Linked DNA regions of Homo sapiens: all the other regions are linked to region 2. Evidence: fine-mapped expression QTL. A gene starts in region 2. Each other region holds a variant in brackets. All regions are shown on one strand. Distances are from middle to middle.

What was found. PIP is the estimated chance that this variant, and not a neighbour inherited with it, causes the effect.
Region 1: its variant is fine-mapped to the expression of PDE6B in whole blood (INTERVAL, PIP above 0.99).
Region 3: its variant is fine-mapped to the expression of PDE6B in hippocampus (GTEx, PIP above 0.99).

The regions. Positions count from the first base shown.
Region 1 is chr4:661,972-669,971 of GRCh38, forward strand. It overlaps PDE6B (phosphodiesterase 6B), which reads left to right. Exons shown (of 22, transcript NM_000283.4): 13 at 163-270; 14 at 538-647; 15 at 1,129-1,216; 16 at 1,799-1,899; 17 at 2,143-2,250; 18 at 2,910-2,973; 19 at 3,284-3,358; 20 at 4,560-4,643; 21 at 5,885-6,035. Among named protein-coding and RNA genes, the nearest start is that of ATP5ME, 8.3 kb to the right of the region's middle. RefSeq lists an enhancer at 1,402-1,994 and a silencer at 1,589-2,058. The variant G/A (reference allele first, on the strand shown) is at 4,957.
Region 2 is chr4:621,901-630,163 of GRCh38, forward strand. It overlaps PDE6B (phosphodiesterase 6B), which reads left to right and starts at 3,673. Exons shown (of 22, transcript NM_000283.4): 1 at 3,673-4,194. The coding sequence starts at 3,727. RefSeq lists enhancers at 1,369-2,359, 3,349-4,338, 4,339-5,327.
Region 3 is chr4:433,377-441,644 of GRCh38, forward strand. ZNF721 (zinc finger protein 721) reads right to left here. Exons shown (of 3, transcript NM_133474.4): 3 at 6,612-8,268. It also overlaps the pseudogene ABCA11P and the pseudogene LOC100533734. Among named protein-coding and RNA genes, the nearest start is that of ZNF721, 62 kb to the right of the region's middle. The variant C/T (reference allele first, on the strand shown) is at 4,638.

The sequences.
Region 1 (8,000 bases), 40 kb after region 2:
GCCAGTGGGAAACGCAGGGATGGGGAAGATCGGGAAGTCCAGGAGACGGTGTGGGGATGATGGCACGGAGCAGGGCTTCCACTGTGAAGTCAGCCACAGGTGCCGCTCTGGCGGGACTTACACGCTTGCCGCCGGAGCCCTGTGTCCTCTCGGCTCCCCCAGGTCCTGGTGCGGTTCCTGTTCTCCATCAGCAAAGGGTACCGGAGAATCACCTACCACAACTGGCGCCACGGCTTCAACGTGGCCCAGACGATGTTCACGCTGCTCATGGTACGTGGCTGCCAGAATCACCAGGGTTGTGCAGGCCCTCCTGGTACCAAGGGCAGCACTCAAGCACCCCGAGGGATGAGATGGGGGTCCTCCCAGGGCAGAAGGATGGAGGAGGGCAACGCCCTCTGACACCGTGCACCGCGCACCCCAGCCCTGCGGTGGTCGGAGGTCCAACCTCCAACCCGACGCCTAGGTCATCCCAACCCCTCACCACTCCCCACCCTGCTGGAGCCAGGACCGGTGAGCAAGGTGGCCCTGTCTCTACAGACCGGCAAACTGAAGAGCTACTACACGGACCTGGAGGCCTTCGCCATGGTGACAGCCGGCCTGTGCCATGACATCGACCACCGCGGCACCAACAACCTGTACCAGATGAAGTAGGCACCTCAGGGCGGGCATGTGAATTAGCCCTAAATCAACTCCACGCCCTTGGCGTGAATTAGGCTTCGCATAGCAGGCTATGTAGAAAGTGGAGTCCACGGCCAGGCCCCGTACTCCAGCACTGTGGGAGGCCAAGGCGAGGGGATTGCTTGAGCCCAGGAGTTCGAGACCAGCCTGGGCAACATGGCAAGAGCTCTCCTCTACAAAAACTTAAAAAAAAAAAAAAAAAAAAAAGCTGTGTATGGTGGCGCACACCTGTGGTCCCAGCTACTTAGGAGGCTGAGGTGGGAGGATCACTTGAGCCCAGGAGGTCAAGGCTGTATTGAGCCATGATTGCACCACTGCACTCCAGAGTGGGTGACAGAGGCAGACCCTGTCTCAAAAAAAAGAAAGTGGGGCCCATCTGGGGGGGCTGCAGAGCGCAGGGTGGGCCAAGGGCAGGTCCCACGGGCCTCACCTCCACCACCTGTGTAACAGGTCCCAGAACCCCTTGGCTAAGCTCCACGGCTCCTCGATTTTGGAGCGGCACCACCTGGAGTTTGGGAAGTTCCTGCTCTCGGAGGAGGTTGGTATACTCACCCTCGGTTTCTGCTGTGGGCGCTGGGGACGCAGCGTCCGCAGGACGGCAGGGCCGTATCCTGCGGAGCAGGGTTCTGATGCAGCGGGTGAGCACTGGGTGTGTGAGCACTGGGGGAGGGCGGCAGAGAAGGCGGAGGGCCGAGGCTGAGGGCAGGTGCATCGGAGGCCCTGGGAAAACGCTTGTGGGGAAGACAACTGGAAAGGGCCCCTCATGGGGTGGGGTGGAAGCCGAAGGGGAAGCGGCCCGGGACCCACCAGCGGGGGAATGAAGGGCAGCCGAGCCCTGAGCGGCCCCCAAGGACCTGGACACTCAGTGGACCCCTCCCTGCGCTCCCCGGTGGTGACCTCTGAGGCCATCTGCGTCCCAAGCCGACGATGGAGCCGCTGGTGGAGAGCTGGGCACCCTGAGGAGGGCCCTGAGCAGCAGGCGGATTAGGGGTCCCGCCCACCGAGGGCCCGAGGGCGGGGGCGTGAGAGGCACAGGCAGCCGAGGCGGAAGGGGCGGGGTCCCCGGGCACCCTGAGAGGTGGCCGCAGGGCGCCTGACGCGCTGGGCATAACCTCCGCAGACCCTGAACATCTACCAGAACCTGAACCGGCGGCAGCACGAGCACGTGATCCACCTGATGGACATCGCCATCATCGCCACGGACCTGGCCCTGTACTTCAAGTGCGCGCCTTCCGGGAGGGGGCGCCTCGCGGGGCGGGCGGGTAGCCTGGGACCCCCGGCAGACACGGGGGCGCAGCGGCGGCACAGCCCGGGGGACGCAGCCCCGGATTCCGTCCCTGCCCGCCGGCCCCGCGCACCCCGGATGGGGCCTCGCTCGGGCTCCGCGCCTCCCTGCAGACGGGCGCTTGGGGCGGGGTCTCCACACTTGCTCCCACCTGCACCTCCCTTGTTCCCTGGGTTCAGGAAGAGAGCGATGTTTCAGAAGATCGTGGATGAGTCCAAGAACTACCAGGACAAGAAGAGCTGGGTGGAGTACCTGTCCCTGGAGACGACCCGGAAGGAGATCGTCATGTGAGCGCGGGCGGAGGGGGCACGAGGGGTCCTTCCCTCGCAGGGACCGGGCCCACTCACCAGCTGGTTAACCCTGCAGCCCTCCCCAGACGCTCTGGAGCAGGAAGAGCCCGTCGCGGCAGCTTGTCGAGGGCTGTGAAACAAATGCGCCGTCCTTATTTCCCCCCAGCTCTCAGGGAGATGGTGCAGAGCTGGGGAGCACACAGGCCCTGCATTGGTCTGTAGCCCTTGGCAGTAACTTACTTCATTTTGACCTTCCACTTTTTCACCTGTAAAATGGTGATTCACAACCAGCCCCTCCCCAGGCTGGTCCCAGGGACCCAGTGAGAAAATACACATAAACCCAGCACTTGGGAGGCCGAGGGGAGTGGATCACCTGAGGTCAGGAGTTCGAGATCAGCCTGGCCAACATGGTGAAACCCCGTCTCTACCGAAAATACAAAAATTAGCCGGGCGTGGTGGCGGGCGCCTGTAATCCCAGCTACTCGGGAGGCTGAGGCACAAGAATCGGGAGGCGGAGGTTGCAGTGAGCTGAGATTGCGCCATTGCACTCCAGCCTGGGCAACAGAGCAAGACTCCATCTCAAAAAAGAAAACACATATAAACCACCTGCCCTCAGGAGACGCCCATCAGCACTCGTGCCCGGTTTGTGTCTGCAGGGCCATGATGATGACAGCCTGCGACCTGTCTGCCATCACCAAGCCCTGGGAAGTCCAGAGCAAGGTTAGAACAGAGGGCCCTCCAGACCCAGAGTCAGTGCCTCTCAGCACATGGGACTGCCGGGCGGGCGGGAGCCTCGGATGGCAACGGACCATTGTTTGCAAGGAGCTCTGAGGGCCACCTCGGGGCCAGGCCAGGGCGGCAAGGATGGGGGTACTGCAGTGTGTCTACATGGCTCAACCGGAGCCCTGTGTGGTGGGGACCCCGGGGGTCTGGGGCGGAGAAGACCGAGGCTCGGAGCCTCACGGGGCGGGCCCGGGCCCTTCCGCGTGGGCTCAGAGCTCCACAGACAGCTGCCTTCCTGTGCCTCCAGGTCGCACTTCTCGTGGCTGCTGAGTTCTGGGAGCAAGGTGACTTGGAAAGGACAGTCTTGGATCAGCAGCCCATTGTGAGTGCTGCTTCTGGAACCTTCCACTCCTGAAACGGGTGTTAGAGACCCCTCTTGGTCCTCAGGAGCCTCAGGTCCTGGCTTGGTCTCAGGCAGGGGGTTCTGAGGTCGTGGGGTCCTTATCTCACTTTGTGGGATCATGTGACATGCGTGTGGGTGGCTCGGACCTGGGTACAGCTGTGGCTTGGGTGATGCTTATGCAGAGGTGACGTCGTTGGCACTGGAGGAACCAGGGCCACCCGCTCATCACCAGGAGCCTCTGGGTCCAGGCAGCTCTGCAGGTGAACCCCAGCAGGGCCGCGAGCCATGCACCAAGAAAGCCCTGGGGAGGGTGCTGGGGCAGAGAACGCATGGGGGGCGTCCCGGGCCCACACAGTGGTATGATGGACAATGCCAGGGTCCTCAGGTCAGCAGCGGGGTCTGGATACCTCCTGGCAGCAGGAGAGGTGCCAGCAAATGGGAGAGTCAGGATAGGCGCCAGGAACAGGAGAGGCAGGGCTGCCCCAGCCCCACGTGGACCAGGTGGGAGCTGTGGTTTCTCACACACCCGCTCTGGTGGGCGGCGAGGGGCTCTCTGGAGCCTGCAGTGGAGAGGGCTTAGGCCAGGTGCAGCCTCGGCAGGAAAGGGGGCATTGGTTGGTCAGCAAAGCCCCACAGGGGAAGGACAGGCAGCAGGTCCATCCCCCGCGCCCGGCCTCTAGAGTCCTGCATGGTTCACCCTCCACCAGGACGCTGTGAGGGGACGGACAGCCCAGGGCACTCGGGGTCTGACACTAGAAACAGCTCCAGAGCACGTCTGTGTCTGCCCCAGGCGAGTGCACAGCGAGGTCCTGGTCAGCCGAGTGTCTGGGCAGTGCAGCCCAGCCCGGCTCAGCACTGTGTACAGCCCATCCCCCTCCCCGCCTCTCCCCAGCTGCAGTAAGGGTCCCCAGAGCCAAGAGGGGGCTGCCCTCAGGGGACCACGGGCTGGAGCCAACAGCAGCTGTGGGAAGAAGCTGCCCACAGTTCCTAGGAGCTGTGGAGCCGCTGGCCAAGGGAGAGGGTGTCAGCTTCCCCTCCCGAGAGCCAGTTTCTGTCAGGCAGGCTCGTCCCAGGCTGTGTCTCCATGAGCACATCTGAGTGAGGGGGTCGGGGGGCTGGGCGGGGCCCCAGGAGCTGCCTCCCTGGTCACTGTTCTCCCGCCCTCTGTTCCTCCCACCAGCCTATGATGGACCGGAACAAGGCGGCCGAGCTCCCCAAGCTGCAAGTGGGCTTCATCGACTTCGTGTGCACATTCGTGTACAAGGCGAGTGGTTCACGGGTGTTCCGAGCTGACTGGGGCAGGGTGGCTGGGAGCAGGCAAGGGGGCGCGGGCTGGAGTCGCGTGGACTCACACGGGCCCGGCGGTGTCCTCACTGGAGTAGGGATGCCAGTGCCAGCTTCGTGCCGCTCTTGAGTGGGGCAAATGGGGAGGAACATCAGTTTCCGGACCCCCACAGGTGCCCCAGCCCATCCTCACCCTGCTGTGCCCCTGGAAGCTCTGAGCCCTTTCCCAGCCCAGAATGTCCTCTGCTAGCCTCCAGGCCTACCCCAGAAGTTCTCCCTCAGTGCCCTCCGCC[G/A]TGGCCAGCACACTGTTTTGGGGGCCTTGGCTGCAGCTCTGTGGGTTCATTTGTTCCATGTTTGTGAACCCTCGAGGCGGGGCTGGGTCGGCCTGTCTGCTGGTGCACCCGCCCACAGGGGCGTTTGGAACAGCAGAAGGAGCCACATCCCTGCCAATCTGCCACAGTCCGATGCCAGCTGAGTCTCTGAGGACGCAAGGCGGACATGGAGGGGGAGACTCGATGGGGCAGGGGTCTGACCGTGGGGCCCTGTGTGATGCCCATAAGAGCCAGCTGCCTCCGGCCACACTCCCTGGTGATGGAATCCACGCCCCAAGGAGGATGCCACGGGTTCCACATGAAGTTGTCCCGGAGTGGGCTGTGCCCACTCCCCGCCCCATCCTACCCACCCCGGGTCGTCAGTGCTGGGGAGAAGGTGGGACAAGGGTGGATATTTGGGCCTGAAGTGGCCACAGGTCACGGCCCCACTGCAGGTGCCCCCCACTGCCTTCCCCACCCCGCCACACTCCATGTGTGATGTGCGCGAGTGCACGCGTGTGCTGTGCTTGCATGATGTGTGCCGTGTGTGTGTGGGAGGGACGGGAGAAGGCACTGCAGGGGCTGCCTGCTGTCCGCCTGTGCCCACCACCCCTCTGCCTGGCACCCTGCCCCCACCCCCTGAGCTGTTCTGCTCATTCTTGGGTTCCTCTCCCTGCAACACTGCACCCTAAGCATGCATACCCTAAAGCTCCCGGCTTCAATGTCACCAACACAGCCCCCGAGGTTTCTCCCTTCACAGGGCTCTGCTGGGAAGGTGCCCCCTCCGTGGCGCTCCCTCCTCCTGCCAGGCAGTTCATCCCCTACGAGGGGGATGAGCTGGGGAAGGGCTATCTTACTCTGGAGAGAGCAGGCAGGACAGGACTGGTGGTGACTTCTCGACTCCCCTCAGGAGTTCTCTCGTTTCCACGAAGAGATCCTGCCCATGTTCGACCGACTGCAGAACAATAGGAAAGAGTGGAAGGCGCTGGCTGATGAGTATGAGGCCAAAGTGAAGGCTCTGGAGGAGAAGGAGGAGGAGGAGAGGGTGGCAGCCAAGAAAGGTCTGGCTCTGTGTGGCCTGTGGGGCAGGGACTCGGTGACTCTCCCAAGGCAAAATGAAAAGACAGGGCACAGAGCAGAGTTAAAATGGAGAAAAGCAGAGCCACTTTCAAGAAGCCTCGAGGTGGACAGGGCCACAGTGCAGGGAGAGAGGCCACGGCGGGGGAGAGTGGCAGCTGACTCCACCTCGGTAGCAAACCCGGACTGAAAAATTTCCTCTGTTCCTAGCCAGTGAACCCCATTTTTCAAGAAAGAAGTAACCATATCTTATGTCCTTTATAAAGGACTTAGTTGCAACAAGTCAGCACACCCCCAAGTTCAAATCCCAAAGGCATCGTGGTCTTGCCATTGGCCCGCACTTGGCTACCTTAGCTCTGAGGTTTGGCTTGCTATTCCCGCTGCTCCCAGTATCCCATGCTATTCCCGCTACCCCATGCTGCTCCCACTACCCCATGCTGCTCCCACTACCCCATGCTGCTCCCACTACCCCATGCTATTCCCCTACCCCATGCTAGTACCACTACCCCATGCTATTCCCGCTACCCCATGCTATTCCCCTACCCCATGCTAGTACCACTACCCCATGCTATTCCCGCTACCCCATGCTATTCCCCTACCCCATGCTATTCCCGCTACCCCATGCTGCTCCCACTACCCCACGCTATTCCCCTACCCCATGCTATTCCCGCTATGCCATGCTATTCCCCTACCCCATGCTATTCCTGCTATGCCATGCTATTCCCCTACCCCATGCTATTCCCCTACCCCATGCTGCTCCCACTACCCCACGCTATTCCCCTACCCCATGCTGCTCCCACTACCCCACGCTATTCCCCTACCCCATGCTATTCCCGCTATGCCATGCTATTCCCGCTACCCCATGCTATTCCCCTACCCCATGCTGCTCCCACTACCCCACGCTATTCCCCTACCCCATGCTGCTCCCACTACCCCACGCTATTCCCCTACCCCATGCTGCTCCCACTACCCCACGCTATTCCCCTACCCCATGCTATTCCCGCTATGCCATGCTATTCCCGCTACCCCATGCTATTCCCCTACCCCATGCTGCTCCCACTACCCCACGCTATTCCCCTACCCCATGCTGCTCCCACTACCCCACGCTATTCCCCTACCCCATGCTGCTCCCACTACCCCACGCTATTCCCCTACCCCATGCTATTCCCGCTATGCCATGCTATTCCCGCTACCCCATGCTATTCCCCTACCCTATGCTGCTCCCACTACCCCATGCTATTCCCACTACTCCATGCTGCTGCCACTACCCCATGCTAGTCCCACTACCCCATGCTATTCCCGCTACCCCATGCTATTCCCCTACCCCATGCTATTCCCACTACCCCATGCTATTCCCCTACCCCATGCTATCCCCCTACCCCATGCTATTCCCGCTACCCCATGCTATTCCCCTACCCCATGCTATTCCCACTACCCCATGCTATTCCCACTACGCCATGCTATTCCCGCTACCCCATGCTATTCCCACTACCCCATGCTATTCCCGCTACCCCATGCTATTCCCGCTACGCCATGCTATTCCCACTACCCCATGCTATTCCCGCTACCCCATGCTATTCCCGCTACCCCATGCTATTCCCGCTACCCCATGCTATTCCCCTACCCCATGCTATTCCCGCTACGCCATGCTATTCCCGCTACCCCATGCTATTCCCGCTACCCCATGCTATTCCCGCTACCCCATGCTATTCCCGCTACCCCATGCTATTCCCCTACCCCATGCTATCCCCCTACCCCATGCTATTCCCGCTATCCTATGCTACATAAACAAGGCGACTTCAGGACTATGGAAGGCCAGGATGAGCATAATCAGGGCACAGTGTCAACAGAGGCTAAAGCACTAAGAAAGGCTCAGCCCAGCTAATCGGCTTGGGCTGGTCACAGACCCAGGTGCTGTCCTTCCTCCTGCAGGGGTTGGTAGAGGTCAC
Region 2 (8,263 bases):
ACAAACCAGAAAATGGGACCTGAAGAAGCCGAGAGCCTCGCCTGTGGTCAGACAGCAGCTGAGCATGGGCAGAGGACAGAGCCCAGGCCGAGGGCCGCGGCCGCCCCCACCCACAAAGACCCCTGTCCTGTCCTGGGTGGAATTCCCACACCAGCTCAGGAGGAGCCCCACCTCCTCACCCTTCCTTGTCCTCATTCCAGGGAAATGGTCTGGAAGAGCACCAGCTCCCCACGGAGCTGACTGTTTCTCTGCTTGCAAATTTCATGAGATTTCTGATTCTGAGCTCGAATCTTCTCTCCACTTTCACCTCTTGCCATTCCTCATGACCGGTCCATTTCAACATCAGGGCCAATTGTTCCTTGTACAATTGCATCTTTTCCACAGTTTAGTACAAGAAACTAGGATTCTCTTCATGTAAAAGCTATTTGATGACAAACACCTTGTTCTAAGTGACTGCCAGGAAGTGCTTGCTAATTTTAAATTCTACATTATGATGAGGCAAAGTTAGTAGGAGCCAAGGGACAGAGCACTCCCATATCTCCTCAGACACTCGCCAGGTGCATCTGTGGAGAAGCCGCCCAGTGAGTCCTTGCATCTCACAGGTGCTTCTCACAGGTGCGTCTCACAGGTGCACCTCACAGGTGCATCTCACATGTGCATCTCACAGGTGCATCTCACAGGTGCGTCTCACAGCTATGTCTCACAGGTGTGCCTCATAGGTGCGTCTCACGTGTGTCTCACGTGTGTCTCACAGGTGCGTCTCAGGTGCGTCTCACGTGTGTCTCACAGGTGCATCTCACAGGTGCATGTCACAGGTGTGTCTCACAGGTGCATGTCACAGGTGCGTCTCACATGTGTGTCTCACAGGTGCATCTCACGTGTTTCTCACAGGTGCGTCTCAGGTGCATGTCACAGGTGTGTCTCACAGGTGCATGTCACAGGTGCGTCTCACATGTGTGTCTCACAGGTGCGTCTCACGTGTGTCTCACAGGTGCGTCTCACAGGTGTGTCTCAGGTGCATGTCACAGGTGAGCCTCACAGGTGCGTCTCACAGGTGCGTCTCACAGGTGTGTCTCACAGGTGTGTCTCACAGGTGCATCTCACAGGTGCATGTCACAGGTGCATCTCACAGGTAAGCCTTACAGGTGCGTCTCACAGCTGTGTCTCACAGGTGTGTCTCACAGGTGTGCCTCACAGGTGTGTCTTTTTGACTGTGTCAAGTCCAACCCAATCAGGGTCCCCCAGCATCATCAGTAGGTATGTAGGGAAGTGAGATGGGGAAAAGATAGAACCAATAGTGTGCCATGGAGCAGTTACCTCTGGGCCCCTGCAGGTAAGGGAGCTGCGGTGTTCACACACAACTCCCATGGTCATGGCTCAGGGTTCCCCAGAGGCTGTGGACTCCTTGCCGCCCTGAACCTACTCACCTACAATCACGACGGGCTCCTGGGGCAGGACAAAGCCACAGGTGAGGAACGCGGTGCTGCGGGTGGAAGCTGCTGTCACAGTCGTGTTAGGGTGAGTGGACTATGGCCGCAGACTGTGGGCTCCTCCCAGCCAACCCTCACTCCCGCTAGCGCCCCAAATCTTCAGTCCAGCACCCCTTCCCCGTCCCACCCACTCTCCACACTGAGCCCTCCCAGCCAACCCTCACTCCCGCTAGCACCACAAATCCTCAGCCCAGCACCCCTTCCCTGTCCCACCTGCTCTCCACACTGAGCCCAGCCACTCCACGCTCCCTTGGGCAGGTGGCAAGGCAGAGCCTGAGGTCAGCTGCCACCCCCAGCCCCACCCCAGGGCCCTCATGCCCCCAGCAAGGCCTCTCCAGCTCTGCGGTCCCACTCAAGATGCGCTTAGCTCATTTCACACGCAGGTGAGTGTCTCAGTTCTGCGGGCACGGAGGCCCCTGTGGGAGGGAGGTTGGCAGGCCCCTCGCTGACGGAGGGGAGCAAGGGGCAAAGTGGGGGTGTCCAGAAGGGGGTTGTGAGGAACTGGGGGACGGGAAAGAGCCCGGAGAGGAAAAAGGAGGTGGGGAGGGGCTGCGTGTGCATAGACCTCAGGGTGGGGCAACCGAGGACCTGAAGGCTGGTTTCCGGCCGCCATCCTCACATCCAGGCGCAATGTGAGCTCATCCCTGGGAGTTGGGAAATGCAACCGGCAGGCTCTGGAGGCTGTTCTGGGACTGAATGCAAAGCAGGCGACCCTCCCCCCGGCCCCAAACCCAAGCACTGCAGCGGCCCCACAACCCCTCCCCCCACCCACATCCCCACTCCCCCGTCCCCAGTGAGAATTCACTATTTTTAGGAAAAAGGGGAAGCCTCTCAGCAGATCCTTGAAAGGAAGTGACTTTGTGACTAAGTGGAGGCAGGAACATCATGGCACAAGGGCACACGTCGCACACCCAGCTGGGCCCACTGTGGACGGCGCAGATGCTGCCTCAGAGCAGCCTCCGAGACAGGCAGCTGCAGCGGTGCAGCCCAGGGCCCTCGCAGAAGCTTCCCCGGGGCCTGGCCTCGTGCTGAGAGAACTCTGCGCTCCTGAGGGCACCTGGCTGTCATGCACACGTGCTCACACGAACACACACACCTACACGTGCGCACACTCACACTCCGTGCACACACGTATGTGCACACTCATGCACGCGTGCACACACGTCTACCAGCTGAGTGCAGTAAAAGAACCACATGAAAACCTTGCATCCTGGTTAAAAGTATGGTGACAACATGGACAGATAAACTGGAAAAGATGGGAAGAAACCTTAAGCCCAGGATCTGGCAGCACAAAGGTGCCTGGAAAGCGACAATCAGCGTTTTTATATTCAGGGAAATCAGGAACACTGCCACCCGCCCGCCAGGCCGGCGCCCATGCCAGACCCAGCCAAGGTGCTTCTGGCCACATCACCCCTGCTGGCCTGCAGGGAGCTGGCCCAGGAGCCGAGAGGCCTATGGGAGCAGGCAAGGCTTGCTGAGGTGACAGCGGAGAGGAGAGGTCGGGCTTTGTTGCCAGGCAGCCCCCCAACATTCAGGTCCTTTTTCCACTGAAAGCCATGTGGCCTCAGAGCGGCGTCACCCCGAAGCTTGTCCCAGCCGGGGCCTGACAGCAGGTAAAGGCTGACTAGCAACTCTGCATCCCTCAGAGTGTGGGGGAAGGTGGATGTGGTCCCACCTCCACATCCAGGGTCCCCTTGCTGGCCTCTGGGCATTTGGGTCCTGGTGTGATTACCCAGCCCCCTCTCCCTGCACAGGGGTGAACTGCATCTCCTGGAGGCAGGGCCAGTGCCCCACCACCTCCCCAGCACACCCGAGCCCAGGTCTGGGCTCCCAGGAGGGCCTGGGGCCACCTGTGGGACCAACCCAAACCCTCAGGCAGCTCCACCAGCAGAAAGCGTCATGCTGTGTGTGGGATAACCTCCTCAGGGGATTAGTTCTCAGGGCCTGGTCCGCTAGAAGCCAAATGCCTGTGCCCAGCCACCCGTGACGCCTGCAACAGGCAGGAGATCCCCCAACAGTTACTCCCAGCCTTCATTCCACAGGGTCTGGTTTTCCTGGAAGGTGGGAAGTCCCAGGGTCTGAGGAGAGGGAGCGCAGGCCCCCATTTGTAGGAGTGAGTCAGCTGACCCGCCCCCGGGGTTCCTAATCTCACTAAGAAAGACTTTGCTGATGACAGGGTTTCCTGGGAGTCCATGCGTGCCTGGAGCAGCAGCGTCTCCAGGGACAGGCAGCCACCATGAGCCTCAGTGAGGAGCAGGCCCGGAGCTTTCTGGACCAGAACCCCGATTTTGCCCGCCAGTACTTTGGGAAGAAACTGAGCCCTGAGAATGTGGCCGCGGCCTGCGAGGACGGGTGCCCGCCGGACTGCGACAGCCTCCGGGACCTCTGCCAGGTGGAGGAGAGCACGGCGCTGCTGGAGCTGGTGCAGGATATGCAGGAGAGCATCAACATGGAGCGCGTGGTCTTCAAGGTCCTGCGGCGCCTCTGCACCCTCCTGCAGGCCGACCGCTGCAGCCTCTTCATGTACCGCCAGCGCAACGGCGTGGCCGAGCTGGCCACCAGGCTTTTCAGCGTGCAGCCGGACAGCGTCCTGGAGGACTGCCTGGTGCCCCCCGACTCCGAGATCGTCTTCCCACTGGACATCGGGGTCGTGGGCCACGTGGCTCAGACCAAAAAGATGGTGAACGTCGAGGACGTGGCCGAGGTGGGTCTGTGCGGAGCCTCAGGGAGGCGGCTGTGTGCATCTCTTGCACCTGTCCCAGGTGTCTAAGGGTCAGCTCGGATCCTCAGGCCTCCAGGGAGGCCTCTTGTCAGGGCACAGGCTAGTTCTGTGCTGAGGAGCAAGTACCTAGAGCCCCCTCCCGGCACTGTGCCCTGGCCGCCTGCCTCTCCGACTCGGCTTCTGGCTCAAGCTGACATCGCATGGCCACTGAGTTGGTTAGACCTGAGTCTAGGAGCCTCGGCTGAAGCAGACTCAGGCTCAAACCGGGGTGCCCCTGATTCTGCATCCACATCCCATGGTGGGGACCATGTAGTCCCTGTGAGGACCCCTGGCTTCCAGGAAGACTGACCAGATGGGGGCTTCAGGGCTCTCTGGGCTGGGAGGGAGGCCCTGCCTTGGGATTTGGGAAGAAGAGGTCACAGTCGAAGGTGGTGCAGACGCCCACAGGGAGGGAGAGCCAGGGGAACCCCAAACTTCCACTGTGGCAGAAGCAGCTTTATCCCATGGGAGCCCACGCCAGCCGCCAGGGGAGAACAAACCTGGTAGCCACTGAGCACAGGGGTCCAGGGTGGGACTGGGGAGGGACAAGAGACAGAATCGAGACAGGCTCACTGGAGTCACTGAAGGAGGGAAGGGCAGGGCCTGTTCATGCAAAGCCTGGGCTAGGGCAGACGCTTCCCGAGGACAGAGGCGGTCCTGGCGGGACTGGAGAACAAGAGGGGTGTGAGGTGCCTGCCAGACTGGGTGAGGGCAGCGGCCAGCAGAGACCTGGAAAGGCCCTGAGGAGCTGCCCGGCAAGGGGGCTCTGAGGAAGAAGGGGAGGGGGGAAGCCCCTTCTCCCTGTCCTGCACCCGTCCCAGCTTCCTCTCCCCTTTTCTGTCCCCACAGCTAAGGAGGCTGCAAGAGGCCCAGGCAGCCTCCGCTCTTGCTGGATGAGCCTTGGGAATTACCCACCAGGCTGCCAGCCCAGGGGCAGGTGTGGTCCCTCCTTCCCAGGCAGCTGGGGAGTGGCAATCCTGGTTTGTTTTCGTTTGTGGGTTTTTTTTTTTTTTGAGACAGAGTCTTGCTCTGTCACCAGGCTGGAGTACAGTGGCATGATGTCAGCTCACTGCAACCTCCGTCTCCCACGTTCAAGCGATTCTCCTGCCTTGGCCTCCTGAGTAGCTAGGACTAGAGGTGCCCGCCACCACACCCGGCTAATTTTTGTATTTTTAATAGAGACAGAGTTTCGTCATGTTGGTCAGGCTGTTCTCGAACTCCTGACCTCAGGTGATCAACCTGCCTCAGATTTCCAAAGTGCTGGGATAACAGGCGTGAGCCACCGCACCAGGCCGGAAGTGGCAATCCTCTTATCCCAATGGCAGTAAGCAAGCAGCAAGGCAGTGACCTAGATTCAGTAATCCCCGGGTTACCTTCATCTCCACCTCCCTCCTAAGAAGTGGGGCACCCACAAATCAATCGTGCATCAGGAGCATGAGTTACCAGGAAGCCAGGAAACTTCACAGCAGTGGGGCCTGGGGTGGACACCAGCTGCTCCTCCCTCCCCCCGTTCCCTCCTCCCTCCTCCCCTCACTCTCCTGCCACCCTCCTCCCTCCTTTTCTGCCATCCTCCCCGTCTCCCTTCCTTCCTCCTGCACACAATCCCCAAGACAACTTCTCATCCCCACCCTGTCCCAAATCTGGGCTGTGTCTTTCTTGCCCCCAGGAGTTTGTCCCCCGCTGCCACCACCCCTTCACCCCTTTGTCCCCACCCGGCTGATGGTGTCTCTTCCCTGCTCTGCGGGTCCCCCTCAAACTGCTGGGCTGTCCTAGGTCCGTCCCTCGGCCTGGCCTGTTCCCCAGGGCTGTTCTAGGTCCTGCCACCCCCACCCCCAGTGCCATGGCCGCACCTGCCCCAGGACTGACCTCCGAGGCCTCTCCCCTGCCCAGTGTAGCTGGTGCCATTCCAAGGGGCTGGGCATGGTGTCTGTCCCTCCATTCTGTGGAGTCTTAGTTATCTCAGACTAAGGGAACAGAAACTTGAGTCTGAATTGCCACCAAAAAAAGCAAATCTTCATGAAGTGCAAATCCTCATGAAGTGCAAAGCCTCATGAAGTGCATCTCAGCACCCTAAGCACTGCCAAGTGGCTTCTGGGTTCATGTCTCAGTTTACAGAAGGGGGGACTGAGGCAGAGCACACCTCAGTCTGGCCCACTGCACCCTCTTTGGAGGGCGTGAGCCGCACCGGCCAGTTCAGGAGAGCAGCTCGTGGCTGTGGTGGAAGAGTCCCTCAGACGGGGCGTGGGTGGCCAGCACGCAACACCCGGGCCACCCGGAGTCTCACCCTCCTGCCCGGGCCACCCGGAGTCTCGCCCTCCTGAGCCTTGTCTCCCTGTTTACATTGGGGAACTAATGTCTGCCTCTCAAGGGTGCTGCAGCGGCTAAACCAGCCTGCTCCTGAGCACAGCGGGCCCTGAGTCTGCAGGGCAGGCAGGCCCCGGGTAACCCGCTCCTCCCTGAGCTGCAAGCGTCCATCCTCCTGGAGCTGAGGGTGCCAGCCCAGGGTGAAGGCTGCAGTAGCCTGGCCTGTGGGCCCTCCTGTCCCCAGGGGTCTGTCCCAGGAGCCACCATGGAGGGAGGGGCTGCCCAGGGCTCACACTCTCGGGCCTACAGGGAGCCCAGGCGGTGCCAGGCCACGTGGGACCAGCTTCTGGGAGGTGCAGGGCTTCAGCTGATGGCTCCAAGTCCCTGTCTGCTCCCAGAACCCCACGACTACACATGTTGTGTGTCACGGCAGCCCCTTGGGGAGACACAGCGAATCCCAGGGCCTGCACAAGGGGGGCCCTGCCGGGACTCAGGACTGAGCACAACCTTCCTGGAGCCTGGCCCAGGCCTGGGCATGGATTGTGAACCCTAAAACCTTGGGCTCAGGAACCACAGGTCCCAGAAGGCGGACACCAGGCCCCCCTCCATCCCTCCCAACATGTCAGAAGCCAATGGGCCAGCCGGGTGAGAGGCCCTGCCCAGCTACCCAGTGTTCATGGCTCCTAGACAAGCCTCTTGGCAGGAAGGAAGCACAGGTCGGGTGCAGAGAGGGAGGAGCGAGTGGGCCTGTGAGGTGGCATGGCCTTCCCCATCCCCCGCTGTGCACCCCGGGCAGGGACGCCGCCCACACCTGATGAGGGGGAAGCCACCAGCCCCCCCATCACCCCTTTGTGGCTCCTCAGACCTGCAAGAGTTCACAGCGAGGGCAGCTGGGATGGACGATCCTGGTGGGCTGGTGGGGCTCGGCCACGGCCACCAAGTGGCGGGGCAGGACTCACACCCCAGCTCTGACTGTGCAGCGGTTTCTGAGCCCAGCCCCAGCCGAACAGCCACGGACCCCGCAGTGCTGTGCATGCAGCCTCAGCCTCCACCACCTTCCAGCTCCTCTCCCTGGGACCGTCATGGGAACCCATCCCAAAGGCCCGTCCCGGGACCCTGGTGGGTCCCCTGCCCCCTGCCCCAAAACACCTCATCACGGGGTCCTGCACGTCGCCAGCAGTCAAGACCCTTCGACTCAGTCCTATGGTGGTCTCTACAAGGCTGGACAGAGCAGGGGCGTTGAGAACACGGGCTGGGTGGGAATCCGGAGATAGAGGGAGGAGGGTGGCAGGACCGGCCGTCAGCCATGCTGAGCACAGACGGCAGAGGAGGTGTGGGGCTTGGGCAGTTGGAGGTGCTTTGGAGAAGCCACAGTGGGTGTGAAGGCCCCAGAGCGAGGCCCAGCTGCTCGGCTATGTGAGCACACACAGCCCCCAGGCCTGCTAGAGGCAGAGCAAATGCAGGGGGTTCCCAGGAGCCTGAGAGTCCACAGCTGCCACCTGCTCCCAGACAAGGCTCCTGGCATGTCTGACCAGGAGCCTCTGGGGAAGTAGGGAAGCCCAGACTGGACAGTGGAGAGGAAGAGACCAGCAGGCAAGGACCCCCCGGCCAGGCATCACTACAGGGGACACAGAACCCAGAGGGCACCAGAGAGGAGAGACGGGGGGCCAGCAGGGGCCACGTGTTAATCTTCACCGACAGACACACG
Region 3 (8,268 bases), 190 kb before region 2:
TTACATCTATGCCTTAGTTTCTTCGAAGTCCTATATTAGAGACCCTTTCTACATGCAAACCTAGTATTATACCCAGAGGTTACCAAATTAACCCGGTACATAAAATCGCTGACTCAATTTCAAGAGGCCATCCAGGAGTTTGGACAAACAATTCTGAGTTTGACCCCCACTCCAACAACCCTTATAACCAGGCAGGGTAACAAGTCCTCATTAAAATCTGGAGAGGTGGATCTCCTGGATCTCAACTAACCACATTACAGAAGAACAATTTTACTATCATACTTCTCACCCCAATAGCTATCAAGTTTCCTGGCATCTCTAGCTGGACACATTATTTTTGAATACAACTGGAAACACGTTAAGGAACCAAAGAAAGATTGAACCAACACTTACCTACTCCTGTGACCCACAGGAGGACTTACAAATTTTTCTCTAAATGAGAAGCTAAGTAATGCTCTTCCTCATTTTATCTCAAAGTAGGGTAATCCCAATATTGGCAATCTTATTTGCAGTGGTACTGTTGATTCTTACCTTAACCCTAACTTGCACACCACCAGGTGTTCCATTAAGAGCTTGCTTTATCTAATATTAATTTTTTAACCTAGTTATTTTACTTTTGACTGCTTTAGTCCATCAGCGATGTAATATTTTCATGTTTATATTAGAAGTCATAATACTCTGCAGATTTACTAATATGCCTTTGTTACTGTAAACCAACACCCTCTCCAGGGAAGAGTTTGCTATGTCCCTCCTACATTTAAACATCAAAGCCATAATCTGAGTAGTGATCTCTCTAATATTCATTGGGTTAACAGTCTCTCTTCTTAATCAAGCATCTCAATTTGGCCCTATTCTACTTCCCTTGGAGCCATGCAGCCTAATGTTCTATGGTCATTACTCATACTTCTGACTAAAGTCACCCTCATATGCCCTAACTGCCCACAACCTTTTTTTTAAGCACTTTGCAGGCAACTCCACAACTACTAAACTCTACCAATTCTTCCTATGCCTCAACCTGTTAGCTAGTCATGAATTCCTCTTCATCCTGGGTGGGAATGGCCTACTTGGCCACAATACAAGAATGGACATCTACTCAAGCCCAACTTAGCTTCACCTACCATCGGGACCTCTCTACACAAAACCTTCCCTCTGCTAGTATAATCTTTTTGACAAAACCTAAAGCAGCCTTTTAAGATTTTCTTAAACCCACCCCCATTGTTTCAAGCCCCTTGTTCTCCCCTGCTACCCTCATTGGCCAGGTACTCCTATGCATCTGTGCTACTGTAAACTCCAGAACCATCGTGGATGCTTTAGACCCAGCACAATGCAACACAACGAGCACCATTATTGATATTTCTCAAAATTTTGTTTCACTAAATATTCTCAACATCAAATGAGATTTTCTATTCTCCCCCAAATGTTTTAGCACCTGGAGCATTCATCCAAAATGATGCCACTGAATTCTGCGTCGGTCACACCTCTGGCAGTCAACCCAACCCATGGTGTCAACCAAGCCAGTATAAATTATGCAAAAGGTTTCAAGTCTTTGTTTCAGAAAACCCTTCTCCTTGATACTACTAGAGACATCCCCATGATAAAATGAAACAAAAAAACACATAGGACCCATGTCTGGCTCCCCTGGCAGCAGCAACTTTAGTGGCAGAATCTCACATATCGGATAGCCAACAAGGACCCTGGTCAATGTTTGGAACTGACCTCACCTTCTGCATCCATTTTTATTGACTACAGAACTTTACTTCCTGTGTGAAATGCAGGCTTATCTCTGCCTCTCTGGAAACTTGACGAGGACATGCACTCTGGCTTCCTTCACCCCTAAAATTTGCATTGTCCTGGGTGATGATTCTTTGCTGTTACCCTTTACTACCTCAAACCAGATCAACTGTGCAGTTTATCTTTTTTATTTTTTTCCTCAATGAGCTTGGCATCACAAGTGCCACTACAGGAATAGCTGGCATAATTATTGCCTTCTCAACTTACCACAACCTGTCTCTAGAACTGACTCAAAAAACAGAAACCACTGCTCAGACTCTTACAGAGTGACAGCAACAAGTTGATTATCTCGTGGCTGTAGTTCAAAATTGTAGAGGTCTTGCCACACTAGCTGCAGCTCACAAAAGCATTTGCCTTATGCTAGGAGAAAAATGCTGTTTCTGGGTTAACAGATTAGGGAAAGTCCAGGACCATGTTAGAGATTTTATAAACCAAGCCTGTCACCATCAGAAACATGCCACTAAGGGCTAGTTCTCCTGGGGTGCCAACTGGTTCAAATTCTCATCACATCCCTTTTTGGGGGATCCCTAGCTTTTGTCTTCCTTTTTCTCTTTTGTGAGCTTTACTCACTAAATCAAGTAACCAGGTTTGTTTCCTCTCACCTGGAAACTCTCAGACTTCAAATGGTCCTGCAACAGGAGTATCAACCTATTTTCTTCCCTTCTGTACAACTGTGTTTCTCCACATTTCCTCTGGATACTGCAAGTCAAACCTGGGAAAACATGGAGGGAATGTTTTTCTGACAAAGAGCAAGATAATGAGATGCTGATGAGTTATCTTATGTCACCAGGAAGTAGTTACAGAAGACCCACAGTGCACTGTCTCAAAGATTTTTAGAGTCACAATCTATTGAGGGAATGTTCGAGTAGGCAGTTAGACATGAACAGAAAAAAAGAGCCCCAGAGGAAAAAGCCTCATGCTCCAAAGACAACCCAAAACATGTATGCTAAATTTGAGCAGAGAGGAGCAGAAATACCTATGAAGAACACCCTGAAACACCACTTAGGACACCCAGTAATTGCTCATACTGTGATTAAACTGTCAGAATGTAGCTAGCTACATGCTGATAAAAAGGGAAAAAGGGCTAAAGGAAAATTCCTAAGAGATACGTAGGCATAGTAAGTACACATTTGACTGCTATATTATTTTCCTAAGATGGCGGTAATAAGCAGTGCTGCCATTAAGATTCATTGATCACTGGAACTCACACATGTATATCAGCTGACAGTAAGGAAGCATCTCACAGACCTGGGCAGAAACTCGATGAGGATAAAAGAAGAGATTTACCAGGAAGCAGGATACTAAACAAAGGCAGACACTTAAGACAGAGGTGGGAAATTTTTTTTAAGTCTATGATAATAAAAACTGCAACATGTAACTCTCAAGACTGTTTCCAGCTGGGCCAACCTACTCCTCTTTTGGTGTGTTCTTTGTGTCTGGGCTGAATTGTTTCTCTCAAGAAAACAAGAACTAAGGACTTTGCACTTCCTGGTAACATTTTCACTCTCCCCCACCTCTTGACAAACACCATTGTACTTTGTTTTTATGAGCTGACTACTAAAAATATCTCACATAAATGAAATTATAATTTTTTTTTTTGAGACGGAGTCTCGCTGTGTTGCCCAGGCTGGAGTGCAGCAGCGTGATCTTGGCTCACTGCAAGCTCCACCTCCTGGGTTCACGCCATTCTCCTGCCTCAGCCTCCCAAGTAGCTGGGACTACAGGTGCTGTCACCACGCCTGGCTAATTTTTTGTATTTTTAGTAGAGACGGCGTTTCACCATGTTAGCCAGGACGGTCTCGAGTTCGAGACCTTTGCCTCCCAAAGTGCTGAGATTACAGGCGTGAGCCACCGCGCCCAGCCCAATGTTTGTTAATTTTTTATTAAGGATGGGTGTTGAGGCCGGGCACGGTGGCTCATGCCTATAATCCCAGCACTTTGGGAGGTCGAGGTGGGCGGATCATGAGGTCAGGAGATCGAGACCATCCTGGCTAACACAGTGAAACCGCATCTCTACTAAAAACACAAAAAAATTAGCCGGGCGCAGTGGCGGGCACCTGTAGTCCCAGCTACTCGGGAGGCTGAGACAGGAGAATGGCGTGAACTCGCGAGGTGGAGCTTGCAGTGAGCTGAGATCACGCCACTGCACTCCGGCCTGGACGACAGAGCGAGACTCCGTCTCAAAAAAAAAAATGGGTGTTGAAGATAATCATGTATTTTCTGTTTGAAGAGGTTGTTTACCGTAGTAGTTAAGACTTATCTCTAGAGTCAAACTTGCCTGTGTTTTACTACTGGCTCTTCTGTTGTGAGCAAGTCATTTTTCTCTGTGGCTCTGTTCCTTCCTCTGTAAAATAAGGATAATAATAATGTCTATGCATTGAGTTTCTGTGAAAATTAACAGATATACAGGATTATGGTTAGTATTTGGTATATATTATTATGTATATGCTGAATTACATTAATTAATGAACGTTTGAATTCAATAGCTGCCATAATCTGATTTTCCAGAGAAGGTGACGAAGGACTTGGATAAAGTGACTAAAAATGAAAACCGTACCTCATGAACTGCATCCACTAAAACAAAAAAATCATAACAAATTTCCTCAAGATTGTAACATGAATCTCAACAGAAAAGATCACTGCAGATTTTGAATCTTGAATCTACACAGATCATTCTATTTTTCCAACACTTAACATTTACACTCAAAAGATTCAGCTTAAAAAAATAGTTTTGCTATGTCATAGAAAATGATATGTAAAATCCTTCACCTACCATTAAGTCTCTTAAAAATTTCAAGAGGGCCGGGTGTGGTGGCTCCCGCCTGTAATCCCAGCACTTTGGGAGG[C/T]AGAGGCAGGCGGATCATGAGGTCAGGAGATCGAGACCATCCTGGCTAACATGGTGAAACCCCATCTCTACTAAAAATACAAAAAATTAGCCAGGCGTGGGAGTGGGCGCCTGTAGTCCCAGCTACTCGGGAGGCTTAGGCAAGGGAATGACGTGAACCCAGGAGGCAGAGGTTGCAGTGAGCTGAGATCGTGCCACTGCAGGTTAGCCTTGGCAACAGAGAAAGATTCTGTCTAAAAAAAAAAAAAAATTTTTTTTCTAAGATATATTTTATCTTAAGAGATATCAAAATTCTGATGAGTTTCTTCATATGGTGCTTACAATATGCAACCCACTTATATTAATGTTTTACCTATTCTAACTTATGTTTAACACACTTTTTGTTAGAATCTCATACAATTTTTCCTTTACCAATACAGAGAAGCAATGCTGACTTAATCCTCTTACCTGTGAACAGTGAATTACTCTCAAGTCATCTGAATGTTGTATTGATAAATTATAAATAATCTCAAACAACCCAGTTAAAAACAATAATATACCACATTAAAAATTCTAAACTTCTCATCTGAACCTTGAAAGTCCATGTGAAATTACACGGCATGAAGAGATCAGCGAGGAAACTGTAGCCAAAACACAAAGGAAAAGAAGACATCACAAAACTAAAGATAATTAGAAAATAAAAACAGAAATCCTCTTTAAATTCAGACTGAGTCAGTTTTGCAGCCTGGGAACACGTCCTCTCCACATGCACAATTAATGACATTTCTTCAACATAGATATTTTTAATCTTTTACTTGGAGCTACGAACTAACTCCAGGAATATTTATGGCTAGTTATGGAGCATCTATTACACACCCAGCACTTTGTGTTTGTTCACTACAATTATTTATCAAAACATCCCCAATACTTATGTCTTCCCAGTACTTGCCTGAACAAACTTATTTAGTTATAAAAAGTGAAAAGAACAATAACTAAAGAAAACAGCTTATATAAGGTTGTCCAATAAAATGAAATGTTCTAATTAAATAAAACATAAATACACACATTGTGAAATTACATCTAAAAAGTATTTTTGGTGCACTAAATTTTATAAAAATGATTCTTATAATTTCTGACAAGCTCACATACTTTATGAAGTGGAAACAAAAAAAATGAGAAATTTATAGCTAGAGCATGAGGACCACATAAAACCAGAATTGATTGGCATGGGGAGATTCTCAACGATGATTCATTAGATTGTACAGTAATTAAATGAAAAGAAGAAAATATAGATTTGATTTCAAAATGTTTTAGATTTCTAGTAAATTACCTATCCACAGTATTAATAGAACCTTCTTTGTTCCAATATTGCTATTTTCTTTGGAAAATAGGTATAAACTCTCATGCAAACACAATTACTTGCTCCATAATTTCCTTGTGCCCAACGTTTATCTTTAGAGCACAAAATTTATATATTTAACTCCAAGTAAATTAAATGTCTGTATGTGTTTGCAGGAGGACATGCCACATGTTCAAAGATATATATGAAACATTTTTTAAAAGTATTCAAGACTCAGGAATGTATGAATGTTTATTACAAACATAAAATGACCTGTAGTTAAAAATAATTAAAGTGTGTAACTGGATTGTGTGTAATACAAAGGATAAATGCTTGAGGTGATAATAACTCATTTACTGTGGTGTGATTATTACATACTGTATGCCTGTATCAAAATAACCCATATATACCATAAATATATACACATACTATGTACTCACAAAACCTTTTGAAAAATTTCAATAAGAATAAAAATGTAACATGCAAACAATATTCTTCAATTTATTTGCTGTTGAAAGCCACTAAAAAAGACTAGAGATGTCATTCAATTATATTACCAGATAGTACATTGTTACCATCTTTAACGTACACCCTTGAGTAAGGTTGGATAGGTGAAAGTTGGTGGCATAATAAAACACTTCATTCACGGCACAAAAATTTTAACACAATAACAATTTTTATTTCAAAAATTAAGTTCACACATTATCTTAAGAGAATTTTAAAATTTACTGCATTTTATTGCACTTATTACATAAATATACAGTTGGCAAAACAATTTACTACTAAAATTCAGATTCTCTCTCAGTATAACGCAAAGTATTACTCTGAACACCTACTTCAGGCATCACTCAGTAAGTCAACCACTAAAAGCCTCTCTGCTCAGATTTTCCTGGTGCATCTTTTATTTCTCTTCTCTTTCATGTAGAAGTCTATGAATAATGCCCACCTAATGCAAAGGAGTTTCTCATATCTCTGACGCAGCAACAATTTATCACATGCTTTCACATAAATGAGAATGTTGAAATAGTATAATTTTAGAGTTGAATTATTTGCTTTTGAAAAAAATTTTTACTTTTTTCAAGTGAAAAAATATATTTCGAATATATCTCTTCAAAAACCTACTTTTCAACTTATATACAAGGAAATTTTCTAACAGGTTCAACTTTTGTTATACTTAATACTCTGATTTATTTTAAAGTCTGAAGTGTTAGTTCCTTAGTTCTTTCTACTGTAAATCCTCTGATGTTTACATAGTCTTAATTTTAGCCTAAATATTTCTTCACATTTACTGCACCTACAAATTATATTCTAGTAAAAATTCTCTGGTGTTTCTTTTCTTTTTATCTTGTTTTGAGACAGAGTTTCACTCTTGTTACCCAGGCTGGAGTGCAATGGCACGATCTCAGCTCACCGCAACCTCCACCTCCTGGGTTCAAGCCATTCTCCTGTCTCAGCCTCCTGAGTAGCTGGGATTACAGCCATGCACCACCATGTCCTGCTAATTTTTGTATTTTTAGTACAGACGAGGTTTCTCCATATTGGTCAGGCTGTCCTTGAACTCCCGACCTCAGGTGATCCACCCTCCTTGGCCTCCCAAAGTGTTGGGATTACAGGCGTGAGCCACCGCGCCTGGCCTCTGGTTTCTTAACCTGCAGTTTCTGAACAGAGGTTTTTCCACATTTATTACATTTGTAGGATTTCTCTCCAATATAAATTCTCTGATGTTGAACAAAGTTTAAGCAACTGCTTCAGAGTTTTCCTCTAGTACAAAATGCATATAGTAAGTTCTGGGATACAAGTACAGGTACTAGAGCCCTCTTTATCTTTGTATTCTCTGTCTTAAGACTATTCTTCACTTTAATGGCCTATATTTTCTAAAAGGTCTTTCAACAGAAATTACATTTATAATGCTTTTATTAACTATAAATTTCAAGTAGACAATAGCTTTTGTATATTTTTATGTTTGTACAAGTAGTCTCACATATAAATACTATCATGTGCAAAAATGCTAAGCATTGGTTACAAGTTTTGCCACATTTTTTGTATTTCCAGGTGTTTTCTTCAGTAGGAATTACATTAAGAACTGACTAGAATTGGAAGTCTTTGCCACATTTTTAATTTTAATTTGGCTTCTCATCAATATAATTACTCTTATGTCTACAACAGATTGAGGTGTGATTAAAAGCCTTCTCACATTTTTCACATTTTAGAGTTTCTCTTCATTATGAATTATCTTATGATTAGAAAGGATTGAGGAGCATTTAAAGACCGCGACATTCGTCACCTTCGTAAGACATTCCCCTGGTATGAGTTC